Homo sapiens: one gene and its partners. The protein of the gene in region 1 purifies or fractionates together with the protein of each later gene. This does not show direct contact. Each region holds a gene or a part of one and is shown on either strand. Other genes may lie near its edges.

Region 1 (3,500 bases):
GACATTTTGCCCCGGCTGGTCTCAAATTCCTGAGCTCAAGTGGTCTGCCCACCTCAGCCTCTTCAAGTGCTAGGATGATAGGTGTGTGCCACCGCGTTCAGTCCATTTAGGACTTCAGAGTTTGCAGAGCATATTGGCATGTATTACCTCATCTGCCCTGTGAGATACCAGCCCCACTTTATAAATGAGAAGATAAATGGCTTGTCCTGGGCCACACGGTCCAGTAAATGGCAAAGAGGGATTGGAGCCAGAATTTCCATTTCCCCACAGCTCTCCACTGAGCTGCAGACAGGACTGCCAAAGTCCCGGGAGACCAGTTTGAGAGAATGCTTTTAGATTTTCCAGATTGCCAGGAGTAAATCAGCTTTTAGGACTTGGAAAGCCCACACGACGTGGTCACCTTCCTCACCTGCGTCACGGTGGCCTGCACCATCCACAGCTGGTGTGAGGGTTCCTGCTGTGCTGCTGGGGCATTGAGGGGCTCCGATTGAACATGGGGGGCGCCGTCCAGAACTTCCCTCAACCCCAGTCTGTGGTAACTATGTGTTTCAGGGATTTCTTACAGAGAAATTCCAAAACTTCCAGACAACCCACAGCCTTCCCTAGACCTCAGCATTGTAAATAATGGATTCTGAGGCTGAGACAGCTCCAGCCACAGACAGTATGACCAGGTTTTGATGGTATGGGACTAGGAGAGCTTTCAGTAAACCACAGGAAGAATAAATTCTGGTTTCTTTCTTTTTTTTTTTTTTTTCCTCTGTTGCCCAGGCTGGAGTGCAGTCGTGTGATCTTGGCTCACTGTAATCTCTGCCTCCTGGGTTCAAGAAATTCTCCTACCTCAGCCTCCCTGGTAGCTGGGATTACAGGTGTGTGCCACCACACCCAGCTAATTTTTGTATTTTTAGTAGAGACAGGGTTTCACCATGTTGGCCAGGCTGGTCTCGAGCTCCTGACCTCAAGTGATCCGCCTGCCTCAGCCTCCCAAATTGCTGGGATTACAGGCGTGAGCCACCGCACCCAGCCATGTTCTGGTTTCCATTACCTGGTGGATTATTTGATTATAGCAAATAATAATGTAGTATATGTTTCAAGATAGCTACAAGAGAAGCTTTTGAATGTTATCACTACAAAGTGATAAATGTTTAAAGTGATTAAGCATTTATCAGGTAATTATCCTGATTTGATTATTATACAATGTATACATGCATTGAAGTGTCACACTGTAGCCCATAAATATGTAGAATTATGTGTCAATTATACAAAAAAATCAATTAACATTTTAAGAAAGAAGCCTCAGGTAGAATTTTCTTTTCATCATATATTGAGTAAAGTAGAGAGATGTCATTTCTCTTTTTTTCTTTTCCCAGGACAAGACATTTCAAAGAAAGTATTAAATTCATTCACGAGTGCCGGCTCCGCGGTGAGAGCTGCCTTGTACACTGGTACGTGTGTCTCTTGCTTAATAGCGCCTTAGCGTATTCTGGTCGGCTTGGCTTCCCATCAAGTGTTTTTCCGTGTGTGAATAATGGTTTCACCTCCTAATAGTTTTCTGTAAACCCTGACTCTCAAACGCGTGCTCCATTTGTCCAGCGCTGTGTGTTAGTCGCCCTTTCCTTCTGTTGAAGGAGAACCCTAACTCGTTTTGCTTTTGTTTTTTTCCCATTTCCACTGCTAGGATTTCTGTAGGGACCGTGAAGGTTACTGGACAACAGAAACTTCCCTTTGCTGGCTTGCCTCCAGCATTTCATCAGAACAGCCTCTTACAGATGACCCAGATTCTGTAGGCTCATCCTTGAAACCTCAGTGGCTTTTTGAAGACACTGTTGTTTTTTCTTCAGGAGACTTGATTGCAAATGTGGATTTTCAGTATCGCGCTACTGTGACACCAGAATGACCCAGTTTAGTGACGGCTGTCTGTTTGCATCCTGCTATATTTTGTGTAGACACACACACACACACACACACACACACAGTGAAAAGAAAGCTACTGTATCACGCTTAACCCGAGGATGATGCATCTGAAGCGCTTGGCAGTGTGCCTGGCACATAGAGAGTTCTTAGTGAAAGTGGGATGGCATTTTTATGACCACTCGTAATCATGCTAATAACATGGCTAATTTGTTCAGGGAACCAGTAGCCAAAATTCAGGAGCCAAGGCTCTGTTGTCTAAGTGCTAGGCCGGACATGTCCCCTCTCTGTCTTGAATGAAGTGTGTTATTAATTAACTGGAAGCCTAACAGTCTTTTGACATTCCCCGAAACAGTTCCTCTTGCACTGTAAGCTCTTTAGGACTGTGAAGTGATAACTCCTGGGGAATATTGCTGCTGAGGTTGGTGGCAGCCCTGCCAGGACAGAGGGGACCCAGGGACCCAGTGCATGACATCCAGAGAAGCCACCTATGAAAACTATAATGTGTTCTGAGGGCCGATAGGGACGACAGGGAGGACGCTAGATAGTTGAGTTGTTTTTAGAATGGTGTCTGCAGTTTCATACAGTTCTTGAAATCACATGATTTTTCATCTCACTTTTTTAAAGAGTAGAAAGTGTAATAAATACAAATGGTAGGATTTTAACGTTCATTTCTGTTTGGCTTTAACATACCTTGGGGGTTCAATTGGAGCCAATTAAAGCGGAATTCTGGAACTCCCACTCCTGGGCTTCTCCTGGCTCCTAGTGAAGGTGAATCTCCAGGGTTGCAGCCCCAGAGGATCTGTCTTTTAAGATCTCTCCTGGTAGTTCTAATCTAAAGCCCTAGTGAAGAGCCACTACTTGAGAGTGGGGTTTTAAAATTATTGTTTATATTTGAATATGTGTAGGCCTGATATTCTAGGAATTAATACTTCATACAGTTCTGTGCACCTAAAGATAGGCTTTTCTAAAAGTGAGACATTTGCTGAACTTCCCCATCTTAACCTGTTGCTAGAACTCTCTAAGTCTGATGAAGCACAGCCATTCTGTGACCGCCTTCATTTGCATGTACATGTAAAACGGGTCTCACTCAGCCTGCTCCAGGTAACTGACCCTAACCGTTACTGCCTGCAAGGGTGCCTTGCTCCCACCCTGCGGACACAGTGTGCCTGCTCTGTACTCTGCATATTTATGTCAGGAAGAGTACAAAAGTAAGATTGGGTAAGGGCTTCTCTACATCATGGGCTTTAAAAATTATAGATCTAGCCCTCATATAGCTGAGAAAACTCGACTTTTAAGGAACATGAAGCATTCTAAACAAATGTAGGTTATAAATGGGTTTGTCGCGTAGGCCCTGGAAGCCTCGTTTCCTTGGAGTACCTCAGTTATGTCGTTTGTCCGGGGAAATGGGAAAGACCTGAGGAGGGGCTGAGGAGCAAGGGAGCATCTGGAGCCACAGCCCATAGAAAACCAATAAAAGAAGCTCAAACAGCAGAAGAAAGCATGCGATTCTAGTGCCAGGAAGCATAGGGAGCTGGTACGTTGAGTGCTGAGTGGCTTCCTGGTGGCGAGCTTGCTGTCCACATATAATC
Region 2 (3,500 bases), on another chromosome or scaffold:
TAGATTGCCTGAGCTCAGGAGTTTGAGACCAGCCTGGGCAACACGGTGAAACCCCATTTCTAGTAAAATACAAAAAAATTAGCCAAGCGTGGTGGCGTGCACCTGTAATCCCAGCTACTTGGGAGGCTGAGACAGAATAGCTTGAATCCGGGAAGCGGAGGTTGCAGTGAGCCGAGATTGTGCCATTTTACTCCAGCCTGGGCGACAGAGCAAGACTCTGTCTCAAAAAAAAAACAAAACAAAACACACAAAAAGACAACAAAAAACACTCCTCATGCCCCAAGTCATACCCGATGCCAATTAAATCAGAATGTCTCAAGTTGGAAGTTAGGCAGTTTTTAAAGCTCCTCAGGTGATTGCAGTGTGCAGAAAGTTTGAGAACCACTGCTTAATTGAATGTAGGAGGATGAACTGCTTCTATTTGGTGGGACCTTGGGCAAGTCAGTTTTAAGCCTTGGTTCCCATATCTGTAAACTGGGTGTTGGATTAAATGTCATGTAAGGTTCCGTGGTCCTTTTCAGCATATAACTTCAAATTCTGTAATGTTAAAATCAATTTGGACATGAAAATGTTTGAAGCACTATAGAAGTATCCATCTTAGATGCTAATGTTACAGACTTTTTAAAAAAGTGCTAACATTGTATGGACTTAAAATTCAGATTTGCCTTCCCTCAATTATTTTGAGCCTCAGTTTAGAGACTGAGGGCAAATGGAAGCATATAACTTACCTAAGACAACTCCTTGTTTCCTGATACACAACATCTGTGGGTAATTTAGGAATACAGTAACATATATCTGAAAAGTCGTGTCTGTTCACTAATATTTTACTTAAACCAATGTGGAAATACTTGCCATTAATATTACACTTTGTAGTTTTATGCTGCATTGTTAGCACTGCTTATTTCAGGATAGCTACACCTATCATTGGTTTTGTGTGCACTTATTTACTAATAAATTTTCTACTAATGATGCAAAATTGATCATAAATGATTTTATTTGGTATAAAACACTTTTATTTACTTTAAGGGGAAATAATGAAAGATGGGTGGGTAGGTGATAGTTAATTAAATCAACTGAAATGCAGAGCCTAACAGCTTAAAAAGCAAAAAATAAAAATAACCAAAAAACCAAATAGTTTAAATTTAAGCATGTATACAAATAGGTAGAACTTGTATAAAATGAAAGGTTCTATGGGCAGAAGAGCAAATGGGGATATATGTAATTATTTATATATTATAATAGTCCACAGAAACATGTATTTTAACAGCATATTACTGGGTTTTTTTTTTTTTTTGAGACGGAGTCTCGCTCTGTCGCCCAGGCTGGAGTGCAGTGGCACGATCTCGGCTCACTGCAAGCTCTGCCTCCCGGGTTCACGCCATTCTCTTGCCTCAGCCTCCTGAGTAGCTGGGAATACAGGCGCCTGCTACCACGCCCGGCTAATTTTTTGTATTTTTAGTAGAGACGGGGTTTCACCGTGTTAGCCAGGATGGTCTCGATCTCCTGACCTCGTGATCCACCTGCCTCGGCCTCCCAAAGTGCTGGGATTACAGGCGTGAGCCACTGCGCCCGGCCTTACTTAGCATTTTGGTTCGTGTATTTTTGCTGAAAGGAACTAAAACAAGGGGAAAGTACCCATATGGTACTGTTCTGAACTAGAGGATTTCAGGGCCGCTAGGAGGGTTCCTCCCTTCCCTCATTTAAAAAATGTCTTCAGGCCTAACAAATGTTTAAATCAGTTGTTAAAAATAATTTTTTTTTCCCTTCACAGTGTGACCTTAGCAATATATTACCACATAAAGAACAGGTGAGCTCCTTTAAAACCTGTCTTGTTATTCCAGCTAATTACTTTGCATGATATCAAGTTCAGTATTAGGTCATAACTATAGACATCATAAGCTATAGATTGCTATTACAGTATTGAACTGAATCATTTGTGGTTTTTCTGGTCCCCAAGATGGTTTCAATTATTAAATTACTGAGGATCCCAAAGAGTATTTGTTTATGTTGGTTATATTGATATTTATTGCATTAGAAATTGAAGTTGAGAATTTAAAAAAAAAAACCCTATATTTAGTTTCAGTTTCTCAACGTTGGCACTGTTGATATTTTGAGCTACATAAGTCTTTGTTGTGGGGACTGTCCTGTGTATTGTAGGATATTTAACAGCTGTCCCAGGTTGTGACAACAAAAATATAACCCCTGACTGAGAATCATATTGTTAACATAAATAATATTTTTTCATGAAAAATAACTCTCTTCTACAACAACGAAGTTGAGTAAAATGTGTCATGTATTTATATATATACAACTCTCTAGTGTCCAGCTTAACAGAAAACAGCTGGATTCTCATCTCTGTCTTTGCAATTAGTTTTTTTTTTTAATTTCAACTTTTATTTTAGATACAGTGAGTACATGTGTAGGTGTATTACGTGGCTAATAGTGCACCCTGGTAGTGAGCTGTAATTTGTTTTGAAGAAGTGATAAGAAGATGACCTAGCCTCACGCAAATATATAGTTGGTAAAAGGTATATTTTTAAAGCTTTCAGATGGTTGTGGGTATTCTTTATTTTTTAGTTTATTTTTATTTGGTTTTTTTTGAGACGGAGTCTTGTCTGTTGCCCAGGCTGGAGTGCAGTGGCACGATCTCGGCTCACTGCAACCTCCACTTCCCAAGTTCAAGCGATTCTCCTGCCTCGGGCTCCCGAGTAGGTGGGGTTACAGGCGCATGCCACCACGCCTGGCTAATTTTTGTATTTTTAGTAGAGATGGAGTTTTGCCATGTTGACCAGGCTGGTCTTGAACTCCCGACCTCAGGTGATCCACCCGCCTCAGCCTCCCAAAGTGCTGGGATTACAGGCATGAGCCACCATACCCGGCCAGTATTCTTTAATACTACCCAACACTCCACAAGTGCTAGTTTCTTAAAATGGTTACAGTGGAATTTTGTGTTATCAATGAATTTTTTATTAGTACTCACCCATCTGTCTTGTACAATATATGTATCATTTCCCCTTACTTGGTTTTCTAATATTATGCATTGGTTATATGGAAAATATTGGTTCACATCTCTTCTTTCTTTTTTTTTTCTTTTTTTTGAGACAGAGTCTCATTCCATCACCCAGGCTGGAGTGCAGTGGTGCAGTCTCAGCTCACTGCAACCTCCGCCTCCCGGGTTCAAGCGATTCTCCTGTCTCAACCTCCCAAGTAGCTGAGATTACAAATACATACCACCATACCAGCTAATTTTTTGTATTTTTAGTAGAGACAGTGTTTCACCATGTTGCCCAGGCTGGTCTTGAATTCCTGAGCTCAAGCAATCCGCACACCTCAGCCTCCCAAAGTGCTAGGATTACAGGCGTGAGCCACCATACCCAGCCTGGTTCACATTTCTTGACAGTGGCAAAGCTCACTTTTGTTAGTATCACCACCAATTGTATTAAAAAATCTTTAAGTATTGAGAAGCTGTTAAACTCACATAATAAGGTACAAGTTTCTCC
Region 3 (3,500 bases), on another chromosome or scaffold:
CAACATGTGAAATAGATGGGGCAGGGGACTTAGGCCTCAGTGACCTTGGACCACAATGATTGCTACTGCTTTCACTTAGAAGCTGAATCTTCCACTGGAAACTGGGATGGATAAGACCTATGATAGTCTTAAAGAGGCTCTATTCCTGTAACATTAAGAAATCATCTGCTGCTTCTGTGATTTTTAAAAAACTAGATCAATCCCTAGTTTTTATAAAATCTTCTTATTAATAATATCAGCCAGGCATGGAGGCCAACTCCTGTAATCCCAGCACTTTGGGAGGCTGAGGTGGGTGGATCACTTGAGCCCAGGAGTTTGAGACCAGCCTGGGCAACAAAGTGACACCCCATTTCTACAAAAATTAAAAATAAAAAAATTAGCCAGCATGGTGGCACATGCCTGTGGTCCCAGCTACATGGGAGGCTGAGACAGAAGGATCCCTTGAACCCAGTAGGTCAAGGCTGCAGTGGGCTGTGTTCACATAACTGCACTCCAGCCTGGGTGATGATAGAGCAAGATCATGACTCAAAAAAAAAAAGAAAAAATTACAAAATCCCCATTGTTTATAGGAAAATTGTAGCCTGATCCTAATAAATAAAAATATGACGTTAAACACAAGAACTTTCCACACTAGAATAGAGATTGTGTTTTTGTAAATGGCTTTTCTGAAAGGTTCTTCTAAATAACAATATTTATAGTATATATGAAAATATTTCATTTTTAAATTTTTAGTTTAAATGTTCCATATAAAATACCTTTTCAAAAGCACTGGGAAATCCTTGTATAAAGCTTGTTTTTTGTCAGCCACAGTAAATGACTTTAGTTGGTTGTTTAAAAATGCTTTTATTCTGTTTCATTTGAAAATGCATTCTTGCCTCTTTTTTGTTTGTTTTAAACTTTGGTACTCAAATACATGTCGCTTGTTCTGTGATTTATGTTGCAATGCTAAGTGAATAACGTACGTCATCTAAGGTTATCTAAGTGGGGTTTAGGCTGGGAGTGGTGGCTCACACATGTAATTCCAGCAGTTTGGGAGGCCAAAGTGGGCAGATCACCTGAGGTCAGGAGTTCGATACCAGTCTGGCCAACACGGTGAAACCTCTACTAAAGATAAAAAATTAGTCGGGTGTAGTGGTACACATCTGTAATCCCAGCTACTCGGTAGGCTGAGGCTCGAGAATTGCTTGAACTGGGAGGCGGAGGTTGCAGTGAACCGAGATTGCGCCACTGCACTCCAGCCTGGGCAACAGAGTGAAACTCCATCTCATCTCAGAAAAATAATAAAATAAATGGGGTTTAGATTGGAATTTTTCGAATCCAAAGTTAACAGTATGATAAAACAAAAGTGCCAGTTGAGTGTCTTCATTTCTTACAGTGCTGGTGTGGGCAGAACAGGCACCTATATTGTAATAGACAGCATGCTGCAACAGATAAAAGACAAAAGCACAGTTAACGTCCTGGGATTCCTGAAGCATATCAGGACACAGCGTAACTACCTCGTCCAGACTGAGGTAAGGAGTAGCTGCCAGCGTCCTCACGACATTCTGGCAAATGCTGTAACTGAAATTTGTTAAATGATAATGAAGAGACAGATTCATTCTTTTAGGGCTTGCAGTAATTTACAGGTTTGTATTAGAAGATATTCTGACAATGATCCTATTCTACGGATCACAGTTTTCCATTTCTGTATGGATCTTAACATTTGGATTCCTAAATAACTACACAAGTACTTACGAAAGAGATACAGTTGTTTCAAGAGCTGTGTTAGATGGTAGGGGGAGTTAAACATGTTGTCTGGCCTGAGAAATACATAGGAGAGGATGGTTCTAAAACCCTTCATTGAACACGATTTTTTGTTTGCTTATTGAGTTGAAGCAATAAGCACAGTATAGAATACCGTGATCCAGGCACAGTATAGAATACAGAGCTAAACTTAACACAGTCTCTACCGTAAAATAAGTTAAGACTGATAAAGTGAGTATTGGAGCAAATCACCTAGCTGTAAGTGCTTGAAGGAAATCACTGGGAGGTCCCTGTTAGCAGCAGAATTAAACTAAGGTACACTTCATGAATGAGTGGCTAACCCTTAACACTCCCTCAGTGACTACCATGTATTGTACCTCTTAGGAGCAGTACATTTTCATCCATGATGCCTTGTTGGAAGCCATTCTTGGAAAGGAGACTGAAGTATCTTCAAATCAGCTGCACAGCTATGTTAACAGCATCCTTATACCAGGAGTAGGAGGAAAGACACGACTGGAAAAGCAATTCAAGGTAGTGCTTTGAAAAAGTTTCTTTGGCATAAAGCAAGAAAATGTTTTAAATGCCTTGAGTTTGGGGGTTATGTCTTCTTTGCATTAATGTATACACCGAAATGGATTACTATTTGTACTCCTTGTACTCCTTAAATGTGATGAAAAAGAAAATACGGTTTTGACCTATGTATGAATTGTTGGTATTCAAGTAGATATACAGTGTTGTATTTTCTTCTGAGCAATTTATGACTTTATCTGAATATAAACATCAGCCCCTGGCCATAATGACATAGTACTTTAAAGTAACTCGTTTAGTCCAAAAAATGTCCTATTTTTTCTGAACTAATCTATCTTACCTTAATTATTAAGAATGATGACTTGTAGACATATTGTCCTAAAAATATGCCTATTTCAAAAACTATTTCAGAAGATAATTTAGGAATTTAAAAAGAATTACTAAACAATACTAGAGAAAAGTTAACTTTTCCTAAATGGTTGTTCTTTTTCTTTGATAGGGACATGAAGAAGCTTAAAAGCGGTTAAGGTTTATATGGAATTGACTGAAGTGAAGGTGAAAAAGAGAGATTATAAGGACTATTAAAATAATTAGGGCTCAGTCATCTGATAATAAATCAAAATTGCTTCTAACTTTCAAACATCGCCTGTCTCTCCAGTTACCAAGTGCTTTCCTATTTATCTTTGTCTTTTAAATTCTATTTTGCACATTGTTCTGTATGTAAATAGTTTCTCCCTTTGTATCAAGATTCAAAGAATGAGATGAATCTACAGTTTTAGTTTTCATGGTAAAACTTTCCATAGACTGAAACTTTCATTTGAATCTCAGCTGAAGAAATGAGACTGCCAAGCAAATTATACCAAGTGATATGAAATGAAAAATAGTTTAATTTCACTGAGTTCAGTCATAAAATTAAAAATTTTTAGCTCCCCATTAACATTCTACTATAAAACCATGAGATAATTAATAATGAGGACACAGTGTATCATTTTAAATGTTTAACATGAGTTCTTACAAAATATTAAGTACCAACATTTCTTAAATTCTGCCTTTTTCGTTTCTTCAATTTTTTTTTATACATACTTTAAAACTTCATTTAAGAAATGCGACCAGGTAGTTGGTTCTTTTACAGGCACTAACCATTTTAGAGCTCAAGATGAAGAAAAAAACAAGAATCAAACTTGAAAATGAAAATTATATCCAGGGACCATGAGTTTTACTAAAGCATC
Region 4 (3,500 bases), on another chromosome or scaffold:
GGGGGCGGTGGAGGGGGTGGTGCCACGTGTGGCTCTGTGGACGGCTCCGACGACCCTGACAGTGTGCTTCTCTCCCTCCAGGTCGTGCACACACACAAGCCGCACTTCATGGCCTTGCACTGTCAGGAGTTTGGAGGGAAGAACTACGAGGCCTCCATGTCCCACGTGGACAAGTTCGTCAAGTAAGTCTAGGGGCAGGTGCTGGTGCATGTCCACTTCCCAGGGGTGTGGGGTGCCGGCGGGGGTCTTTTCATGGTACTATGATCACCAGCCTCACCATTCGGGACTCACCTGGGGGTCATCTTGGCTGAGTCTCAGTTTTCCAAAGAGAGGAGTGGCCCAGACGTGTGGCCACGAGCCTCCTTGGGGCGGCGACAGAAGGCCACGGAGTGACAGCCTGCTGCCTCCACACGGCGAGGGTCTGTGCTCTCGGGCCAGGGGACGTGAGCCCCAGATACCAGTGGAGCCGTCTCCGTGTGTGTGTGTCTGAGGCCTGGGCCTGTGGTGGCCGGGGTTCACATCCCACTGCGCAGTCTGTCTCAAGGAGGTCGGCAGGGAGCGTCTATCCTCCTTGGGGGCGAAATCTCCATCGTTTAGGAGGAAGGTGCCCCACGTGTATTCCCACTGTACATGCCCTGAGGCTTCTGACAGGGCCGGCCCAACTGGGTCCTGCCTGGGAAGAGGGGGCGCCCGGACCTGGGGCATCCAGGAGTGGACAGGAGCAGGCAGGGGCAGGCAGGCTTGTGTTCAGACATGGGGCCTCCTATAGGCTGTTGCTAATAGTGGCTGCTGTATTTTCCCGAGGCCGCAGCCGTGAAGCCCGCCCTCTGTGTCCCCTACAGTGTGGCCTTGGCACATTCCCATGTTGGGGGCTCGTCTCCACCTCCAGACCCTGGGCAAGCCCTGGCTTCTTCACAGCATGAGGGCTTCTGGGACCAGCCCCCAACATCGCAGAGCTTCACAAAGCTGCCACACTCTGTGGGCCGACGCCGCTGCCACGCTCTGTGGGCCGACGCCGCTGCCACACACTGTGGGCCGACGCTGCTGCCACGCTCTGTGGGTTGACGCTGCTGCCATGCTCTGTGGGTCGATGCAGCCACCCGGAGTCGGGACCTGTGGGCAGAGCCGTCGAGCCCTCCCGGCCTGGTGCCAGTGTGAGTGTGAGCGAGGCTTCAGGCGATCCCAGCCGCTGCATCCTTGCTGTGACATAAGCCCTCCGTGTTGAACTCCCAGCGCAGGGTCCTCGAGCAGAGCAAAGTGGTTTCAGCTGCTAAAAAAAACTGCCACAACTTCCCAAAATAATCTGTAATTTAAGGCATTTTTTTTTTCTTTTTTTTTTTTTGTTTTGAGACGGAGTCTCGCTCTGTTGCCCAGGCTGGAGTGCAGTGGCGTGATCTGAGCTCACTGCAAGCACCGCCTCCTGGATTCATGCCATTCTTCTGCCTCAGCCTCCCGAGTAGCTGGGACTACAGGTGCCCACCACCACACCCAGCTAATTTTTTTGTGTTTTTTTAGTAGAGATGGGGTGTCACCATGTTAGCCAGGATGGCCTCAATCTCCTGACCTTGTGATCTGCCTGCCTTGGCTTCCCAAAGTGCTGGGATTACAGGCATGAACCACCATGCCTGGCCAGTTTAAGGCAGTTTTAATCAAAATCTTAGCGGCATTTTTCCTAACACTCAACAAACTAATACTAAAATTGCCATATAAGAGCAAAGGGTCAAGAATAGTTAAAAGAATCCTGAAGGAAAACAAAGTGGGTTCTCACCCAGCTCGACCCCAAGGCTCATTCCGAAGAAGCAGTGGGGCAGGTGGCATGACGCAGGCCCGGAGAGGAGAGCGGATCGAGGCAGGTGCGCAGCCCAGAGAGTGGAGAGCGGAGTCGAGGCCCCACCCAGACCCTCGCGGCTGCCTTGGAGGAGGGTGGGTGGGGACATGGGCTGGGGCACGGCATCATTGGTGTCCTGTTGGGAAAAATGAAATTGGATCCCTGCTTTGTGTCATAAGCAGCCACTTCTCACTCACCCTACATAAGATGAATTTCAGTTGTATTAATTATATAAATGTAAAAGGCAACATTAAAAATTTCAGTCTAAAATATAGGAGAAAATATAGTTTTGGGATGAGAGATTTCTTTTAAAATGTGCAGGAAGTGCAGCCTACAGAATGGAAGGCTGAAAAATGTGGCCATGTTTGAACTAAGCATTTGCTTATGAAAAGGCACTCAAAATGAAGTCACTCAAAATGAAGTCACTCAAAACAAAATCAAAATTCAGCCACTTCGGGAAAAGATATCTGCAGCACACCTTACTGACAAAAACGAGTGTTTAAATATATGAAGAACTCAGTAAGTCGGTAAGAGAAGGAAAGCAGCCCCTGTTGGGAAGCACCTTCCAGAGGAGAGAAAGTGGGGGTGCACCCTGAGCACGGAGGACGCCGCCCTCACAGCAGGCGGGGACACCGCAGGCCGGACGGGAACGATGCCGCCGTGTTTGGTGTGAGAGCTTCACAGTGGAGTGTGGCCCCCACGGCCTTGTGCCCCCGCGATGCCGTGTGTGTTTCCTTCCTCCGCGCTTTATGCCTAATGTACAGCGTTATGATTTTTGCTTTAAACAATTTTCTTTTTAAAAGATTAAGACGTGAGAGAAACGCCCTTGGTGTGGACCAGTTCACTGGCTTTCAGTGCCCTCCGCCCTTTTGTGTGGATTCTGCTTTTTATCTGGCACCCTTCTCTCTCTGCCTGAAGAACGTTCTTTAACATTTATTTTAGCACAAGTCAGCTGCTCATGAATTTTCTCAGCTTTTGTTTATCTGAAAAAGGTCTTTGTCCTCATTTTTGAAAGCTGTTTTTGTTGTAAATAGAATTCTAGCTTGTCAATTTTTTTTCCTCTCACTACTTTAATGATATCGCCCCATTGTCTTCTGTATTGCATTGTTGCTGGCGAGAATCTCGCCATTGTTCTCTCTTAATTTTCTTGTATATAATGTGCCCTTTCCTCCACTGCTAGGTTTTGTCTTTATAGCTGGTTTGCAGCAACCTGATTATGTTGTACTTTGCTTTGATGTTCTTTATGTTTATCTTGCTTGGGGCCGTTTGAGCATTTGCAGTCTGTGGGTTTATCGTTTTAATCAAATTTGGGGAAAATTTGTCCTTGTCCATTATTTCTTTAAATACTATTTTTCTTTTCCTTCCCTTCTCTTTTGTTCTTAGGCTCCAGTTACCTGATGTTAGATTGCCTGGTTCTGCCCCACAGGGCCCTAAAGCTCTTCTGATTGTTTTCAGCTCATTTTCCCTGTGTTTCGGTTTGGATCGCCTCTGTTGCTGTATTTTTAAGTGGCTGGGCTCTTTTCTGTTGCAGATTTTGATCTTCTCTTAGGTCCATGCAGTCAGTTCGTTTTATTTCTGACATTGTGTTTGTCCACTCCTTCCAGAAGCCTCACGTGTGCTTTCCCTGTCCTCGCTTTTCCTTCCGTCTGTGCGTTCCTTTCGCTGTCTGGTC
Region 5 (3,500 bases), on another chromosome or scaffold:
CTTCAACTTCGTTACAACCTGTAGTCCATTTATCCTAACATCTTTTTATTATCCCTTATATCTTCAACCCCCTCTGCATATAGCTTCAGGTCCACGGTCCATCATTTATAATTCTCTTGAATATATCCTCAACTCCCTTGACTTTTCAGCAGCCTTTGACTCAGTTTATCATTGCTTTCTAATGTAAAACCTTTATTCATTTGGCTTCCAAGAAACAATACTTGCCTGATTTCCTCTGTCTCATTGGTTACTCCTAAGTCTCCTTTCCTAATTCCTCTTTATCTCCCCTACCTCTTAATGTTGGAGGACCTCAGGGTTCAATACTTGCACTTCTCTTTCCTAACAACACTGCTTTGGAGATCTTGTAGTTGCTTGGTTTTAAATACAATCTGTATGCTGATAAATACTAACTTTGTAACCCTGTCTGTATTAGGCCGTTTGCATTATTGTAAAGAAATACCTGAGGCTGGATAATTTATGAAGAAAAGAGGTTTAATTGGCTCATGGTTCTGCAGGCTATACAAGCATAGCTCCAGCATCTGCTTCTGGTGAACACCTCAGGAAGCTTACAATCATAGTGAAAGGCAAAGAGGAGTAGGTGTTTTACATGGCAAGAGCAAAGAGTGAGCGGGAGATGCCACACACTTTTAAACAACCAGATCTCACGAGAACTCATAATTGTGAGGATAGCACCAAGCTATTCATGAGGGATCCACCTCCATGACCCAAATACCTCCCACAGGCCTCACCTCCAACACTGGGGATTACATTTCAGCATAAGGTTTGGAGGTGACAAACATCCAAACAATATCCCTATCTCTCATTTCTTTTCTGAACTTCGAGCTCTTATATCTAACTGCCTCTTCAATATCTCTTTTTGTATGTCTTATAAGCATCTCAAATATAACATGTCCAAACTGAACTCCTGATAACCTTTCCCTGACCTGGGTCTTTCCAGTCTTTCCCATCTCAGTAAATAGTACCTTTTTAGTTGGTTATGCCTGAAACCATGGAGTCGTCCTTGACTGTATTTTTTGTTATATTATGTGTACATCCAAACTCTCAGAAAACCCTACTGGCTTTACCTTAAAAACTTACCCAGAACTCAGCTACCACCACTAGAATCTAATGACACTATCTTGGTCTAAACAGTTGTCATCTCTCAGCTGGATTATTTCAATAACCTCAAAACTGATCTCCCTGCTTCTCTTCTTCACCCCCTTCAGATTGTTCTCCACACAGTAACCATCATAATTCCATTTAAATGTAAGTCAGATCATGTTTTCCTCAGCTTAAATTATGCATTAAACTCAGAGTAAAAGCCCAGGTCTTTATTACATTTCCCTGAAAGGTCCAAATGAGAATCCTCTCTCTTTGTCCCTTCTCTGGCCCCCACTGCTATACTCACCCACTAGGTAACAATGTTTCAATGAATCCAGCCTCCTTACAGCTTCTCATACACTTTAGACATGTTTCCCTTTGGGGCCTTTGCATTTGCTCTTTCCTGTGCTTGGGGTAGTCTTCCTCCACATAACCATAGAGCTTATTCCCTCACCTCCCTCACATGGTTGCTCAAATGTTACCCGTGAGGCCTTCCCTGAGCATAGTCTTTTAAAATATAACTTTATATTCCTACCCTCAAAATAAACTCCCAACCTTTACTTTTCTCTATAACATTTATTACCATCTTGCATACTTGATTTTTGTCTGTCTCCATGTATACTCCTCCAGGGCAGAAATTTTTGCCTCTCATGATCACTAACATATCCATAGGGCTACAACTATGTCAGTGGATATTTGTTGTGAATGGATGAAACTTGTAGAATGTCCTTAAGAAGGAGGTTGGCATTCTCAATAGGAGGGAACACCAACCACAGCAGTTCTGTAAGGACTTTTCTTAAACTGGATTTTCAGAACTCAGGTTGCCTGTATGTTTATTCTTTTGATTTAATAAGAAGCAGAGACCATGATCTCTAGAGAACATCATAGAAATAGTGTTGCTAGTATTTGTAGCACTTAACATTTGTAAGTAAACTCATTTATTATATAAACATTTGGACAGTGGCAGAATTTAATTGGTTACCATAGTGGTGCAATTCTGGAATATGCAAACTTTATCAATGAAAAATCCAGGAAACTTCCAGTTTTTACATCTTTCCCAGAAAATACACTGGCAGCAGTATAGGAAGCTCAGCCATGTTCCTGTGGCACACCTTAGACGAATTTGAAGCTGGGGAAATGGCTGAGTGGTAGCATAGCTAACTCCCTGGAATACAAGAAAGAGTACATCAGCCAGGGTAGAACAACCAGAACTATTTTAGATGTAGTAGACAAAATAGAGGTAGTGGTCATGGGGAACAAGGAAGCCAAGGCACAACAAGCTTAAGAAACTTTGTGGATTTATCTTTTACGTTTAATGCATCCAGAGGTAAAAAGATCCAAACTGTATAGTTATTTAATATAAAGACCCAAGACATACACATTTTTAATATTCTGCCATATGTGCTTTTTAAGTAATATATATATATAATACCAAAACTTTTCTAAAAGAAGATTTTGTCTTATATTAACCTCCATAGTTACAACATAAAGTAATGATTGTCACCAAATAAAAGGAAGTTTAAAATTAAGTAATTTTAATTTGGCATGACTAAAGCTCAGTAACTAAATGTTAACCATTAGTAAATTTAACTAAAGGGGATAGATAGTCATTGCACTATTCTCACATCTTTTCTAAAGGTTTGGAATGAGGGGGAAAATGAAAATACATGAACAAGCTCTTTTTTTTTTTTTTCCGAGACAGAGTTTCACTCTTGTTGCCCAGGCTTGAGTGCAGTGGTGCGATGTTGGCTCACTGCAACCTCCACCTCCCGGGTTCAAGTGATTCTTCTTCCACCAAGTAGCTGGGACTACAGGTGTGCACCACTACGCCCGGCTAATGTTGTATTTTTAGTAGAGGCAGGGTTTCACTGTGTTGGCCAGGCTAGTCTTGAACTCCTGACCTGGGGTGATACACCTGCCTTGGCCTTCCAAAGTGTTGGTATTACAGGTGTGAGTCATTGCCCCTGACCATTAACAAGCTCTTATAAAGAGTTTATTGACTGTCAAGATGATAAAAATATTGCTATGCCATGGGAATAGAAAAAGAAAGATGATAAAATCTGCCAGTAGAGATATTGATTCTGGATGATGAAGTCATAGTTTAGTATTGGGCTTATACCTCAGATTGTTAGCACTTGGGCAGTAGTTGTGTCATAAATTTGCAAATAAAATTATTTAGGATCAAAAGATCTGTTTCTAAAAAATTATATACAGCTCTAAATCACACAAAAGCAAATTAAAGTGGTTAAGAATTCCTTTTTAATTCTAGTTTACTGTCATTGTTTCTAGTCACCTCAGTTGCTAGAAACTTGTGTTATGTCTTGTTTTCTGTCAGGATAGCAAGTAATAAAAAATGTTACTCACTTGTAATTATGCTGTTTTAAATTGTTGCAGTATAC
Region 6 (3,500 bases), on another chromosome or scaffold:
CTGCTGATGCCCTTGGGCTACTTATTTGCTCTGGGCCTCCTCAGTTTTTTCATTTAGAAAAATGGCTTGGGCTGAGGCACAGTAGTTCACACTTATAATTCCAGCACTTTGAGAGGCCAAGGCTGGAGGATTATTTGAGCCCGGGAGCTCAAGACCAGTCTGGGCAACATAGCAAGACCTCGTCTCCACAAAAAATTTAAAAATCAGCAGGCATGGTGGTGTGTACCTGTAGTCCTAGCTACTCAGGAGACTATGGCAGGGGGATTGCTTGGGCCCAGGAGTTCAAGGCTGCAGTGAGCTGGGATCACATCACTGCACTCCAGCCTGGGCAACAGAGCAAGACCCTATCTCAAAAAAAAAAAGTTTGTTAAGAAGCAGGGTCTCACAATATTGCCCAGGCTCAAATCCCTGATTTCAAGCAATCCTCCCACCTCAGCACCCCCTAGTAGCTGGAACTACAGACAAGAGCCACTGTGCCTGGCTTAGAAAATAGATTTGTTTTGTTTTGTTTTGTTTGTTTTTGTTTTTGATTTGCCATTTGCCTCACAAGTTCTTGATGAAACAAGTTAAGGTATGTATGTAGCAGGGCTCACATCACCTGACACATCAATACATGCGCTGTATTTTAAATCCCCACACTCTGCTAGATACTCAGGAGTTATACAAAAGAAATGTGAGGAACACAACTTCAGCTGGTCCAGCCAACACACCTTGGGTATTCTGTAGGTGCCAGTGCTGAGCCAGGTGCAGGCAGGAGAGGCAGGTAAGAGAGCTCGCCATCTAGCAGCGGGATGGCCAAGCACCCAGCTCACTTCGTCGGTGCTGGGGGATAAATTGATTCTAACTAGAAGACTCTAGGAAGGCCCAAATGAAACAGCTCTTGGGCCGAACCTATGAAAACACACTAAGAAACATAGAAAGAAAAGGCAAATCTAGAGACAGAAAGCAAATCTGTGGGGGACTGGCGGCTTGAGGACGGGGACAGGGAGTTTGTACAAAAGAGGGATCTTTCTGGGGTGATGGATATGTTCCAAAACTGGATTGTGGTAATGGCTATGAACTCTATTAATTTACTGAAAATCATTAAACTGTACACTTAGAATGGGCATGCTTTATGAGAGATAAATTCTATCTTGGTATTAATTAAAACAAAAATGAGTAGGAGTTTAGCAGATAAGGAAGTCTGGGTGAGACAGAAGAAAGGCATCGAACAATCCAGCCCCAACTCCAACCCCTCCCCTGCACCCCCAACTCTCCCAGGTATCAGCTTAGAGGGTGCTTCTCCAGGGAGCCCCCTATACTGGGGTAGGAGCTCCCCTCCATAGCACTTCACGCTCCCTGGTCTTATTTGATAGGTACCCCACATACAACCCCCAGCCCAAGACCTTAAACTCTGCACAGGTAGGGAGGATGCCTGGGCCCAACCTTCTCAGACTCCAGCTTGGTCCAAGGCACACAGTAGGTATCAGAAGCACTTACTGCGTTAAGAGAACAAACCAAGGTTTGGTGGGGTTGGGGAGGCAGAAGACAGTGGGATGATGAAATCTGCGTTTTAAACTGGGAAGTGCTGCCGGTGTGGCTGGAGTGAAGGAACTGGAAGCATTCTCTGGGCCAAGGGCAGATAAGGCTCCGCTGTGCCGGAAGAGTGGGTGTGAGCCCTCAGAGAGGGCTGACCCAATTAGATGGCAAAGTGAAGACAGACAAAGAGCTCCAAAACTCTCCAGAGATTTCAAGTGAAGACAGAGAAAGAGCTCCAAAACTCTCCAGAGATTTCTAGCTTTAACAAATGAGTAGATGAGACGTGTTGACCATAATAGGTAGGAGACACAGCTTCAGTGAGGGAGATGTGTCCTCGGCTCTGTTTTGATGTGGAACAGCTCGGAGCCCACACCTAGTGTTAGGTCTGCAGCTCAGGGGGACAGCTCAGGTGTATATCTATATCACCTGCCAATGCACAGATGTGGGCATAGGTGAGTTCAGCCAGTGCACCTGGGCAGGTAGAAGGAACTGTCCTCTAGACATGCACTTAATATCATGCCTACCTGAGAGGAGACCTCACTTGCCTAAGGGGACACAGAGCAAGGAAAGATTTAAGCTAGGGCAAGAGAGTACTGAGGCGAAATCTGGGAAGACTTCCAAGAGGAGAACCACGCACCACCCAAAAGCCTTCTTCCTTTTTTCAGGGTCACAGCAACCTTATCCATGCAGTACGTATTTAACAATCCTGAGTTTTCTTAGCCAAGGGTCAGAGACCCATCCCTTGCTGGAGAAGACCTCTTGTCTCATGCCACAGGTGGGGCTAAGACACCTCCACCCCCAGGCTCCTGGCTTCCTGCCAACTTGGGTAGTACCTCAAGCACCAAAAAGATCCAAATACCCAGACAACCCAGCTGCGGGATTAGAAGCATTCAGGGTGCACTTGCTTCTTAAGGTAAAGGCACACAGCCCCAAGAAGTCATCTTTCCTGCCCTGCTGCTGGCAGAGGAGGGTGGCAACAGGAAGAGAGTGGAGGTCTCTGGGAAGGATTTCTTTAGTTCGTCATGCCTCCGATGTGAAGCTTTGCCTCTGAAATTCAATTTTACTTGAAACAACATGGCCAAGGTAGGGCTCTTTAAAGGATTTACTGTGCTTTTCAGATGATTTAAAAATCTTGAGACTTGCGCCCTGCTCATCAGCATCTAAGAAATGTTCCACCTGTCAAACCGTATTGATTACCTGAAGTCATATTACAATCTGCACCACTAGATTCCAACCATTTTTTAGTCTTTGTAGAAAGTGATTTGAAGAAACCTTTTTTCCGTAGGGTAACTGGCACCAAAAGAGCCCCTAAGCCCATGCTGCTGTCTCCATATACAGCCACCCTCTGTCATTCCCAGATTAGAAACTCAATCTAAGGGGAAAAGCACAAGAGCTACCTGACATTCACAGATGTGCAGCTTTACATGAGGACATAAGAACGACACAGAAACCCCCTGCTACCATAGGAGAGCAGGGAGCCCCAAAGTAGAGTGTGATTAAAATCTACAAGTGTCTGCTCATCCTAACTCCAAACATGCCTCCCCCACCCCCCAGCACAGTGACATCAGGTGCTGACAAACTAGCAGAATACACATAATCCCCCATCAATCCTGGCCTGGCAACTCATCAGTTGAACGCATTATCCCACAATGAACAAGCACGGTTTAGGGCTTGCTGGAATGCAAAATTTTAATACAAACCTAACCCCAATCTAGATAAAAATTCAGCTGCCAAGTAGCTTAATCTTCGGTGCCAAATAAACTCCGGGGCCCCCGTTAGTACCCTGGATTATCACTGGTTCATGAGTGAGTGTGGTACTCTACCACTTATGAGTAGCAAAAAGGGTCTTAGAATAAGTGTCACAGGGAGACAACTGCTCTGACGCACACTCAGCAGGGCATGCACTGTACCCGCGCTGCAGACCTTGGAACTGTGCTTGCAGAGCCCTGAAGGTAGGGGGTGTGAGCACCAGCGCTTCAACA
Region 7 (3,500 bases), on another chromosome or scaffold:
AGAGGTTGCAGTGAGCCAAGATCACGCCACTGCACTGCAGCCCAGGTGACAGAGCAAGAGTCCGTCTCAAGAAAAAAAAAAAGAAAAGGGAAGGCTGGGTGCGGTAGCTCACGCCTATAATCTCAGCACTTTGGGAGGCCAAGGCAGGTGGATCACCTGAGGTTAGGAATTTGAGACCAGCCTGGCCTACGTGGTGAAACTCCATCTCTACTAAAAGTACAAAAATTAGCTGGGCTTGGTGGCGGGCGCCTGTAATCCCAGCTACTTGGGAAGCTGAGACAGGAGAATTGCTTGAACCCGGGGGGTAAAGACTGCAGTGAGCTGAGATCACATCACTGCACTCCAGCCTGGGCAACAGAGCAAGACTCCATCTCAGAAAAAAAGAAAAGGGGCCGGGCATGGTGCCTCACGCCTGTAATCCCAGCACTTTGCGTGGCTGAGGCAGGCGGATCACCTGACGTCAGGAGTTTGAGAACAGCCTGGCTGACATGGCGAAACCCCCTCTCTACTAAAAATACAAAAATTAGCTGGGCGTGGTGGTAGGTGCCTGTAATCCCAGCTACGTGGGAAGCTGGGGCAGGAGAATTGCTTGAACCCGGTAGGTGGAAGCTGCAGTGAGCCGAGACCATGCCATTGCACTCCAGCCTGGGCAACAAGAGTGAAACTCTGTCTCAAAAAAAAACAACAAAAAAACCCAAAAAACGAAAAGGGAACATGCGCAGTGACTCACGCCTGTAATCCCAACACTTTGGAAGGCCGAAGAGGGAGGACTGCTTGAGCCCAGGAATTCAAGACCAGACTGGGCAACATAGTGAGACTTTGTCTCTAAAAAAATAATAATAAATTTAAAGAAATAATTACAAAATAAGAACAACAACAAAAAAGAAAATTCAAGAACTCTGTTTTTTTTTTTTTTTAGATGGAGTTTCACTCTTGTCACCCAGCTGGAGTGCAATGGTGCAATCTCGGCTCACTGCTGGAGTGCAATGGTTCAATCTCAGCTCACTACAACCTCTACCTCCCAGATTCAAGCGATTCTCCTGCCTCAGCCTCCTGAGTAGCTGGGATTACATGCGCCCACCACCACGCCTGGCTAACATCTGTATTTTTAGTAGAGACAGTGTTTCACCATGTTGGCCAGGCTGGTCTCAAACTGCTGACCTCGGCTGATCCACCCGCCTCAGCCTCCCAAAGTGCTGGGATTACAGGCATGAGCCACTGCGCCTGGCCAAGAACTTTCAGTTTTAACAGAAAATAAGTCAGTAAAAACATAGCCCAGGGTTCCCACTTTTCTCATGGAAAACGCATGACCAATACCAAATTAGGGCAAGACTCTTTTCTTCCCTGCATAAAAGGACAGAGAATTGATATTAAGACTGAAGAGCTGAAATCGCCTCACTTTCTCCTTTGTATCTGATGGTTTCTAAAACAAGCAAGAGGTTTTTTTTTTCTCTTCTAGAGAAGAGATCATGAATACTGCCAGAGCCCAGAGAAAAATTCTTGCAAGAGGAATTTTTTGTGGCGTATTTTGGAAATAGAATGTGAGCTAGGTGAAAATAAAATTATCAATTGAGAGCTCCTTCTTGTGTAACCACCAGTTTTATTGTTTTCTTATTTTTTAATGTCAGTTTTATTATTTTCTAGCCATATCAGATTTCAAAAATAGACAACATTTTCTCTTGTAAAAAGAATTGTGTTTAAAAAAATCACGGGCAAGAGAACAAATGTGAAGATAAAGCAAAGTAATGTATTTTGGCCAAATTCCAGGTCCTTGGCTAGAATTAATTCTAATAGCTTCAGGTCTCTAAATTTTCACTTGTTTCTATACTTTGTTATTTACTCCATCGATATAATTATCTAACCTGTCTTCTACATTTCCTGAATTTCATTTTAATTCTTGTTCAGTTTACAAAATTATTTCTTGTAAAGGTTAATAATTTTCTCAGCCCTGCATAGATCCTTCTTCTTGACTGTACAAGCAGCTTTGGATGCTAAGTGTAGTACCAACCCTGTAATATTTCACTGGACTACATTTGGAACATATTCAGGGTACCTGGTTACCTCAAGTTTGTCTTACTTTACAGTTACATAAAGTAACTTAGTCTCAAGCAGCACTTTCTCTTTTTCTCTAAGTCTATACACAAACCTCTTTGGCTAGATGACAACTGCCTTTCCATATGTAAATTTCATGGAAGTAACAGCAACAATTTCACTGAGTCCCGCCGGGCGCGGTGGCTCATGCTTGTAATCCCAGCACTTTGGGAGGCCGAGGCGGGCGGATCACGAGGTCAGGATATTGAGAACACGGTGAAACCCTGTCTCTACTAAAAATACAAAAAATTAGCCGGGCGCAGTGGCGGGAGCCTGTAGTCCTAGCTACTCAGGCTGAGGCAGGAGAATGACGTGAACCCGGCAGGCGGAGTTTGCAGTGAGCCCAGATCGCGCCACTACACTCCAGCCTGGGCGACAGAGTGAGACTCCATCTCAAAAAAAAAAAAAAAAAAAAAGAAAGTGTTTTTCAAGAGGAAGAAAGGACAGGGTTATAAATGTATCTTTTAAATTGCTCTTGATATTTAGAACAAACTATGCATAACAGGTAAGCAACATCTATGGGAAGATTGATTTAATTTTCCTCTTACCTGTAAAACTTTACCATGGACCACAGTTCCAAGGACTCCCGAACACAGTCTTGGAGTTAAGCCTGTGAACAACCCGCGCCTCCCATCGATACTGGCAATGTGCTGAGCTAAGAACACAAGTCAGAGATGTTGTCAAGTTCTGGTCAAGAGAAATGGATATACTACAATTTCAAAGAAACAAGCTTTCTATATATTTTCTTTCAATAACAACTCCTGCCTATCACAGTCCTCAACGTCATGCAAACCCAAATAAATCAAAGGCACTTACCATAACTAAAGAGACCAGGAAGCTGACACACTTGCCGCCCAAAAATATTTCGTCCTATTGTTGGAGGAAGAGGCTCATATCCCACCTTTAAAAACAATGGAATATATCAATATTAAAGCAATATTTCCAGAAATGTCTTGCTTGCAAGGTCTTGAATAAAGAACACAATTTGGGTTATTTTTAAACACAAGTAAAAATGCAGCATAGGTTTTCCAAGGCAATGATGAAGCATCATTCTTGTAGGTTTTTCTTCTGTTGGTAATACTGAGTTCAATAAACTCCAAGTTTCATTTTGGTTCAAATTCTATGACGTAAACCATGTAGCTGAAATAGGCTAATATCAAACTGAAAGAAGGGAACTTTTGCGTTAGGAAAGCTACAGTTTACTAAGGGGGCTCAAAAATACCTTCTAAATAAAATCTAAGGCACATTTTGTATTTGAACAAAACTAGAAGACATCCATTACGCCAGCATCAGCTGCATATTTGGCAACCCAGACAAAACACTCAAAAGGCAAATGCAGATATAGCTGGATAATTCACTTAGGAAAGAATTACAAGCTAACTTCATGTTAGAAGAACAGGCTGTCGGTC

The links.
Region 2: the proteins of DUSP22 (region 1) and CCNYL1 purify together in Homo sapiens (affinity purification with mass spectrometry; 2 studies listed by BioGRID and IntAct, with this or other methods). This does not show direct contact.
Region 3: the proteins of DUSP22 (region 1) and PTPRG purify together in Homo sapiens (affinity purification with mass spectrometry; 2 studies listed by BioGRID and IntAct, with this or other methods). This does not show direct contact.
Region 4: the proteins of DUSP22 (region 1) and INPP5A purify together in Homo sapiens (affinity purification with mass spectrometry; 2 studies listed by BioGRID and IntAct, with this or other methods). This does not show direct contact.
Region 5: the proteins of DUSP22 (region 1) and RAP1A purify together in Homo sapiens (affinity purification with mass spectrometry; 2 studies listed by BioGRID and IntAct, with this or other methods). This does not show direct contact.
Region 6: the proteins of DUSP22 (region 1) and HPCAL1 purify together in Homo sapiens (affinity purification with mass spectrometry; 2 studies listed by BioGRID and IntAct, with this or other methods). This does not show direct contact.
Region 7: the proteins of DUSP22 (region 1) and MTCH2 purify together in Homo sapiens (affinity purification with mass spectrometry, with the first as the bait; one large-scale study listed by BioGRID). This does not show direct contact.

The regions. Positions count from the first base shown.
Region 1 is NC_000006.12:344,487-347,986, forward strand, and holds part of DUSP22 (dual specificity protein phosphatase 22), read left to right. Parts: intron 1-1,367; coding exon 1,368-1,442; intron 1,443-3,500. UniProt on the Homo sapiens protein: Dual specificity phosphatase; can dephosphorylate both phosphotyrosine and phosphoserine or phosphothreonine residues. Activates the JNK signaling pathway.
Region 2 is NC_000002.12:207,735,640-207,739,139, forward strand, and holds part of CCNYL1 (cyclin-Y-like protein 1), read left to right. Parts: intron 1-1,771; coding exon 1,772-1,807; intron 1,808-3,500. UniProt on the Homo sapiens protein: Key regulator of Wnt signaling implicated in various biological processes including male fertility, embryonic neurogenesis and cortex development. Activates the cyclin-dependent kinase CDK16, and promotes sperm maturation.
Region 3 is NC_000003.12:62,271,571-62,275,070, forward strand, and holds part of PTPRG (receptor-type tyrosine-protein phosphatase gamma isoform 1 precursor), read left to right. Parts: intron 1-1,375; coding exon 1,376-1,511; intron 1,512-2,127; coding exon 2,128-2,274; intron 2,275-3,500.
Region 4 is NC_000010.11:132,645,787-132,649,286, forward strand, and holds part of INPP5A (inositol polyphosphate-5-phosphatase A), read left to right. Parts: intron 1-81; coding exon 82-182; intron 183-3,500. UniProt on the Homo sapiens protein: Phosphatase that specifically hydrolyzes the 5-phosphate of inositol 1,4,5-trisphosphate to inositol 1,4-bisphosphate, and inositol 1,3,4,5-tetrasphosphate to inositol 1,3,4-trisphosphate. Plays a crucial role in the survival of cerebellar Purkinje cells.
Region 5 is NC_000001.11:111,699,789-111,703,288, forward strand, and holds part of RAP1A (ras-related protein Rap-1A precursor), read left to right. Parts: intron 1-3,500. UniProt on the Homo sapiens protein: Counteracts the mitogenic function of Ras, at least partly because it can interact with Ras GAPs and RAF in a competitive manner. Together with ITGB1BP1, regulates KRIT1 localization to microtubules and membranes.
Region 6 is NC_000002.12:10,305,904-10,309,403, reverse strand, and holds part of HPCAL1 (hippocalcin-like protein 1), read right to left. Parts: intron 1-3,500. UniProt on the Homo sapiens protein: May be involved in the calcium-dependent regulation of rhodopsin phosphorylation.
Region 7 is NC_000011.10:47,636,060-47,639,559, forward strand, and holds part of MTCH2 (mitochondrial carrier homolog 2), read right to left. Parts: intron 2,993-3,500; coding exon 2,908-2,992; intron 2,747-2,907; coding exon 2,640-2,746; intron 1-2,639. UniProt on the Homo sapiens protein: Protein insertase that mediates insertion of transmembrane proteins into the mitochondrial outer membrane. Catalyzes insertion of proteins with alpha-helical transmembrane regions, such as signal-anchored, tail-anchored and multi-pass membrane proteins.